2 linked regions of the Homo sapiens genome follow. The protein of the gene in region 1 purifies or fractionates together with the protein of each later gene. This does not show direct contact. Each region holds a gene or a part of one and is shown on either strand. Other genes may lie near its edges.

The links. Proteins that work in one complex are often made in the same cells at the same time.
Region 2: the proteins of CCDC181 (region 1) and PPP1R7 purify together in Homo sapiens (affinity purification with mass spectrometry; one large-scale study listed by BioGRID and IntAct). This does not show direct contact.

The regions. Positions count from the first base shown.
Region 1 is NC_000001.11:169,424,675-169,428,849, forward strand, and holds the start of CCDC181 (coiled-coil domain-containing protein 181), read right to left. Parts: upstream 2,801-4,175; 5' UTR 2,614-2,800; intron 277-2,613; 5' UTR 254-276; coding exon 137-253; intron 1-136. UniProt on the Homo sapiens protein: Microtubule-binding protein that localizes to the microtubular manchette of elongating spermatids.
Region 2 is NC_000002.12:241,156,967-241,160,466, reverse strand, and holds part of PPP1R7 (protein phosphatase 1 regulatory subunit 7), read right to left. Parts: intron 2,661-3,500; coding exon 2,605-2,660; intron 1,984-2,604; coding exon 1,918-1,983; intron 1,255-1,917; coding exon 1,124-1,254; intron 136-1,123; coding exon 1-135. UniProt on the Homo sapiens protein: Regulatory subunit of protein phosphatase 1.

The DNA.
Region 1 (4,175 bases):
TGAGGATAATAGTAATTTGCCCAATGTAGATCAAAGAAATTTTGTGATGTTTAGATGAGATAATAATGTGAAAACCTTAAAGAATTGCAAAGCACTTTGTAATATAATTATTATGAATGCTGTTGGCAATATATACCTCTATTATGCTGGCATCACTTTTTTCATTTTCATTAATTAACCACTCCAGGTCCTTTTCAAAGTCATCTTCGTATTCTTCACTTTTCTTTGAATCAGTATCTTTATTTTCATTCATTTTCTGTTTGTGAAGGAAATATGCTGTAAGATTTTAAAAGATAAGGTATATGTTATGCCCACTCTAGAGGAGGAATGGAGTATGGAGATTAATGCTGTAGGTAAGCTAATTAACACAGAGAAACACAAAATAGAATGTTCAAAATGAACATGCACTTGAATACACCATGAAAGAGAGATCTGCAATGGCAAGACATTTCCATAGGTAAACATTCCTAAAAACTCTCCCACCTTCCCCCTGTTCCCCAAATAGTTATTGATGTTGGTTCCTTTTCCCTCTCAAGATAAAGTTAATTTTTGGTACACTTTAGGTATGCTGAATTAATAAATAATCCACCAGCTGTTTTAGCCATTAGCTTCGCTTTGTTCTCCCCAAACCTTTGGCCAGACTAAGTTATTACTGAATAATAACTGTTATTCAACTTAATTATTATTCAAAAATAACTGTTAATTGTTCAACTGGATAATTATTGTTTTTTTCTAAACTATTCATTGGACTATAATTCTTTCTAGATACTTATTTATTTTAAACTAAAAACACAAAATAGATTTGCTAAAGGACTCAAAAGTAAGCCCTTCAATAATTTCTAAATCAGGTTGAGCACAAATTTTGAAGTGATCTGGAGAAATCAAGTCAACACTTCAGAGTGAGTTTCACTTCCTAACTGCAAGACAAGCTAAATTGCTTAAGCTATTATATCTAACTACCTACCAATTAAAAGCAAGGGCACCATGAATGATACAGAATAAAACTCACTGTAATCCGAAATACTTACAGTAAAAATAGTACTTTTCACAGTCACAATGCCTTGGAATAATCAGTTTTCTTTTCAGAGCAGGGATCTTGAAATTTATTATTTTAAGATGTTTGAGTTACATAAATATTATAAGAATATTTCTTTGGAACTCTTCAGTGCTTTCCCTTATTTTATGATAAACATAGTTCTGAACTTATAAATAAATGGTTGCCTGAAGACTTTAGTAGATATGTTTTATTGTTTACAGAGAATCACACACACATGAAAACTAAAATTTAAAATGAAAACATAAAATCTGTATAATAAAAGCACAGTAATTAAAAATTTAACAGGTTAGGGGTCTTTAAGTCATACTATTATGCCATAATTCAAAGGAAAAAAAAGCCATAGTTAAGGTAACTCTGAGAAGTAAATTAAGTCACATCAAATCTGAAGTGCAATTCTTTTGTTGTAACTTAAAAACAAAAAAACACCCTCATGGCCGGTTCTCAAGTAAACAAAGAACATAAATTACAAACTCTGGTTATCAAATCCCTTAAGCCTTTTTCAAATGCGTCACAGGATATTCAACCCCTTCAATTCTTTTAATCTTCATCACCAGGGTACTGTCCATATGGTACAGAATCAACAAGCTAGAACAAAAATACATCTTATACAAACAAAATCACTTAACACTTCCTACTTTATGCTTGTGAGTTTCACACATTTAAATTTCAACATTTATCATCAGTAAAAATCTAGGTAAACGGCTTAGACCAGCTCTACCCTCTTAATACGGAACTGTAGTAAGAGACGGAAATAAATTCCTTCCTCCCTGAGTGTCTGGTAAATCCCATGTGGATAGGTGAACTGCCGATCTTTCAGTAGGAGTCTTAAACCAAGTCCACATGTATACATAATTTTGATAACTTTCTTCCAGAATTCAGGATATTCAAAAATAGTTTAAATAATTGGGTCCCATCTTACAGCGTTTTAAACATATGCTTGCTTAAAAATCTAAGAACTGAAAGCATGTCAAAGAGAATGCCTTTTAATATAAAGTAAGTACTTAAGCAAAAACTAATCCATACATCATGAAACCATCTGGCCCATTATTCCTGTGTATCCTGCCAAGACTGTGATCCTATAAGTAAGTTTTTAAAAAATCATAAACTGTCACAAAGTATGATGATAAATATTTTATGGACTTTAGGTGATAATTTTAATCTGTATTCAGGATCCCAAGGTACCACCAACGAAATGAATACCATTGCCTCCTCATGGAAGCTACAATTTCGGGAGTGACTTTTTCTCCCAGGGACAAAATTATTACTTTCCACGTTCAAGAACTTTGAGAGGGGAAAGAATATGACAAAAATTTAGTCTAAGCTACTCTCAGACGAGTATCCTTCATACATAGTGAAGAAAGGTGTTACCAGACTTCCCCACCAGTGCCAGACTCGGTGGACCTCGGACTCCAGAGGATAAGGCGCCACCAGAAAGCTTCTTCCCTCACTACCTACCCTCCCTCCCAGCTATACCAGACGTTTATACCTTTACCCTCTATCCCACCATTAACATCTCCGCATCGTCCTTCCCTTCTCTCCCTCTATATCCCTCTTGCCTGTGTAAAATGCGGCGGCTGGGATCACAGAGATGGCCGGGGGAGTTCTCCTCTCCTCCTCTTTCTAAGCTCTTCACATTGAGGCAAAGGAGACCCCGGCACCTGCCTCCGCGGCAGCCAGGACCACACTGCCATGGCAACAGCGTGCCTCTGCGTCCTCCATCCGGGCCTCTCTAACTACGAGAGCGACAAAAATCTGCGCAGGCGCATGCAATATCCTCAGACCACCGACCCCTCCCGGCACCCATCCCGGTGCTTGCGAAGGGCCAGTGAAGCTGAGGTTTCTAAGGGGACGACTAAGGAATCCACGCATCACTAACGTTATAGAGACTCGCGAAGTGCCGCTGTGTTGGTTGTGAAATTTCCCTCTTGTAGCTGTCTCTCGTCAGATTTAGAATTTCTTAGGACAACTTCTAAAACTATATTTCTATATGTTATGTGCTTCACAGTTAACGTAGAAAAGTAGTTTTTAGTTTTCATTAGTAGATAAGCAAATTGCTAATGAGTTACCATATTTTTGACCCTCAGCTTCTTTTTTTCCTAATCAAAACCAAAACTTTACCCAAGAGAGTTGCCAAAGAAAATAGGATTTTTGCTCTAGCTTTGAGGCATGTCAAAATGGTCAACTAGAATTTTCTCAAATTCTGCTTATCTTTATGTATAAAGGCAAAGCAAGATGAATTTAGATTGTGGTGAAAGTTGAGATGATTTTAACAACTATCCATTCCCAGCCAGAAATAAATAAGAACTGGGAGAAGTAAAAATATTTCCTCAGTACAATCCAGTGTGTTCGGATTATTTTTAAATTGTTTATTATTAGGATTTCTATCACTTGATGTGATGGAGAGCACCTTTTCTCCAAGAGAGGCAATGTAAAATTAAATTTTTAGATATTCTTCAAGTTATAGACTTAAGGTCTTTTAAAATGGAAGGTTAAAATGAATTGTAATATTGAGTGCACTTCCTAGATGTGGTGTAGTTGTAATGACCTAATGTTGCTACTGCTTCAGCGCTTGAAAAAAGACGCTCCCAAAAAAGGTTATTCACTGCTAAAGGTTGAAGGAATTTTAGTCAAATCTCCTTTAATGGATGTAGAGTTGTAGAGTTACTTACCAAAGCTGGAAGTAGACCCTAGGTTTCAGAACTCCTAGGTTAATAGTTTTTTCCTCTGACCATCCTCCTAAATTTGTATTTTTCAAATAATGGGTGATAGCAGCTTTTTTTTTAAGTATCAGGTTTTGGGGGAACAGGTGGTGTTTGGTTACATGGATAAGTTCTTTAGCGGTGATTTCTGAGATTTTGGTGCACCCATCACCTGAGCAGTGTACACTGTACCCAATATGTAGAGTTTTTTTGTTTGTTTCTTTGTTTGTTTGTTTTGTTTTTGAGACAGAGTCTCGCTCTGTCACCCAGGCTGGAGTGAAGTGGCACGATCTGGGCTCACTTCAACCTCCATCTCCCGGGTTCAAGCGATTCTTGTGCCTTAGCCCCCAGAGTAGCTGAAACTACAGGCACGCCACCACACCTGGCTAAGTTTTTGTATTTTTAGTAGAGATGGGTTT
Region 2 (3,500 bases), on another chromosome or scaffold:
ATCTGTAGTTGATGTAAGTTGCTTAAGTTCTCAATTTTACTGATTTTATTGTTGACCAAGAAGAGTTTTTTCAGTCGTGTCAACTTGTCAACCCCTTCGATGTTTCTCAGCAGATTAAAAGAAATATCTAGAATCCTGAGAACAACCAAAACAGTTTTTTAAAAAAATTTCACGAGCATAGGTTGCATAGAACTCACAATTTAACCACTAAAGGTGGCGTCCCCATCAGGGGACGGCAGTCACTACCGGGTGGGAGAGGGTGGGGGGTTCTGACTGTGCCCCTGCTGCCGCCTGGCTCACACTGATGCTGTCATGAGGGATTTGGAGGCTGCCCAGGAGCCCGGAGCAAGCCAGAGGCAGCCTACAGGCTCCTGATGCCCTGGCTCCCAGTATGGTATTTGAGGCAGAAACTATGTTTTGTTCACACTTGTGCCCATGACAGGACCTCACACCAGGCTCTGCACACAGAAGGGGCCTGAGAAGTATTGAATTAGAAACAGAAACAAAACAAGCAAAAATGAATGAGCGACAAAGGGCAGAAATCCAGGTAAAGTTATAACTAGGACCTGGCTCCTTCTTTTTTAATTTTAATTTTAATTTTTGTAGACAGGGTCTTGTTATGTTGCCCAGGCTATCTCGAACTTCTAGGCTCAAGTGATCCTCCCAATTTGGCCTCCCAAAGCACTGAGATTACAGGTATGCACCACTGCACCTGGCCTAGGACCTGACTCCTTAAATTAGAAATGTCACTTTTTTTTGTAATTAAAAAAAAGAGTATTCAAAAGGCAAGAGGCAATTCTGGATTAACTTTCCTCTCTACCGATCTCAGTATCATCCCTGAATGGAGGCTTTCCAGAAGTCCCCACTGCAGCCTTCCCATCAAAGATTTACTTTGGAAGTCAGGATTGTTCAGGAAGCCAAAGACATGCATGAAGCCGATGAGGCCTCCTGGAGCCCTGAAAACAGGAGGCAGAGACTTGGGATTCAGATGCAGGGCAGGACCCTGTGGCAGAGGCAGCCTCTCAAGGGCTAAGAGCCAGCAGGAGGTTGGCTCTGGAGACTGGACACCCCCCACCCAGTGGCCTTCCCACCATGCTGTTCTCCTGTGGGTCTCATGACTCACTCCAGCTCTGTTAGCGCCTCCAGATTCTCAATCTTCTTGATCTGGTTGTCGTAAAGATCCAGCTCTCGAAGACTCTGTAGCTCCTCCAGATTCTCAATGCATTTAATTAAATTTTGGCGGAGGCAGAGAGTCTGGGGGATGGGAAAAGGGACAATTGACACAGGCAAGGGGGAGGCCACGAGAAGGCCTCAGCTGATACTGGAGGACACAAGAAAGGCCTTTCTGGTAGAAGGACATGTCTTCATTCTCCTGCTGTTTCCTAGAAAGGTGCTGACCTTTGAGAGGCAGGTGGGCAAGGGCACTAAGCTATAATTCCTTAACACACCTGAGGAAGGGCGGGAACCCAAAGGGAGGCAGGAGGCAGGCTCCCCACCAAGCAGGCCAGTTGGGGAGGGAGGCGTTGGCCTGGGGTGTGGGTGTCTGCCACTTCCTGGCAGAACATAAGAACCTTTGGTGGGCTCAATTTTGACAAATTCCAATGAGAGGCACGGAGGACTGTAAAAGTCAGCGAGTGCCTAATTGAACACAGGCACAGAAACCGAGGCAGGCCAGAGTCACAGGTCACTGGCTGCCTGGGCTCAGGAGAGCCAGCCCCAGGGCTGTGCCTCAAGTCCCTCGACTGCTGTCTCACACCTGCTGTGCTCCCAGTAAAGAAAGGCCTGCTACAAGGTGGAGGCAGCCACGCCGCCCACAGGCTGGGACAAGGACCACAACTCAGGACTGACTGCTCGATTCTGGACTTATCCACATCCTATGGGTGAGCGTCATAGTCCCCTCATAAGAGTCCCTCTCACCTTCACTTTCTTCAGTACCTCAAATCCTTCAATCTTCCCTATGCGATAGTGATTCAAATCAACATCCTGAAACAAAGCAGAAATCTATACTCAGCTATAGCAAAGTGGCTGGAGACCTGTGTCGTCCTAGAAGAGGCGGCCTGGAAGTGGGCAGCAGTGGGGGAGGCAGTGCCAGGTGGGTCTGCAGCAGACAGATGTCAGTGACAAGGTGTGCTGCGGGGGCTCTTTGGCTTAGTGATGACTAAGTTTTATGTAAAACTGGCCCTTAAAATGATTGGTACATGACATCTTTTTCTCATTCCTTAGATCCTGTATGCACAAAACATAAGCTCAGGTTCTGAGGATATGCACCCCATCCCATCACCATCAGAGACACGCTGTGGGCTCAGGAGGCCCAGTGGCCAGTCATACACAGCCTGGGGCCATTGGGACCCTCATGTATAATGTAATCATCAGACCCAGACAATGTATGAGTCAAAGGCATCTCATCTGCCACACAATCCTCAAGGGTCGAATAGACATGGGGATAACAATCACTGGTAAGAAAAACATGAACACGGGACTCTGACTCAACCAAGGGAGGCTTAGGCCACCTCTCTAGGGAAATAACTTACTAATCTCATACAAGATAACCTGACAGGGTGGTCCATCACCACGCCCAAGGCTGGGCTGAGCAGGCGGCATTACCTCTGCATCTCTGTCCAGGTTGATGGTTTCCATGTCCACAGGCAGCTCATGTTCTTCTGAAAAAATAAGAAAAAGAGATTTGTTCAGAACCCCATTAACAGGAGGCACTGGTGAAGAGCTGCTTCTGGCTGAGGTCTGGGGCTGTTTGGTGCCCAGAGCCAGCTCAAACCCCGAGGAGGAACCAATGGGAAGGTTTGCTGAGGACCTGGAGAATGTGGCAGGGTTAGACCCTGCTCCAACAATAGTGATGTTTTAAGCATTCTGAATTTCCTGAATTCAGATATTGGCAAAGGTCACCAAACATCCATCTGTGCCTTTGAACTTCCTGAGAAAGGAAATGTGTTTTGAACCTGTTAGTGGGAAGGAGGGGAGGAAGTAGCTGAGTGCAGGTGAGCAGGGTAGCACTACTGCCTTTCCGTGACTCCCAGAGCTGCAGAACTGGCAGCAGCCTGCCTCCCATGTAGCTTTTCTCTTTTTGTTTGTGGCAATAAACCAGGCCATTAGAATCTAGACCATGCTGGGCACATCAGATGCTCTAGGATGGGCCTTTTATTGCTTTGGAAGGTGGCCCAGCATCTACAAACACTTCCCTCTGCAAAGAGCAAAACAAAACAAAACATAGTTCAACAGATAGGATCAAAGAAGCTCACTGAATAATTTAAACACACTTCTCAGTGGGGAGACTGGTGAACTCACTCCAGCAGAGAAGCCCATTGGATTTCACGAGGACTCTCTACCCCGGAGCCGGCATCCTCTGTGCGGAGGAGGGAGAGAGCTGCTCTCCCTGCTGAGGCGACAGCTTCCCTGTTAAGCACTTCCTCATTTCATTTCATTGGAACCTACTTCAGCATGTGTGCTGAAAAGGACTAAGACACACACAGATGCACACACACACG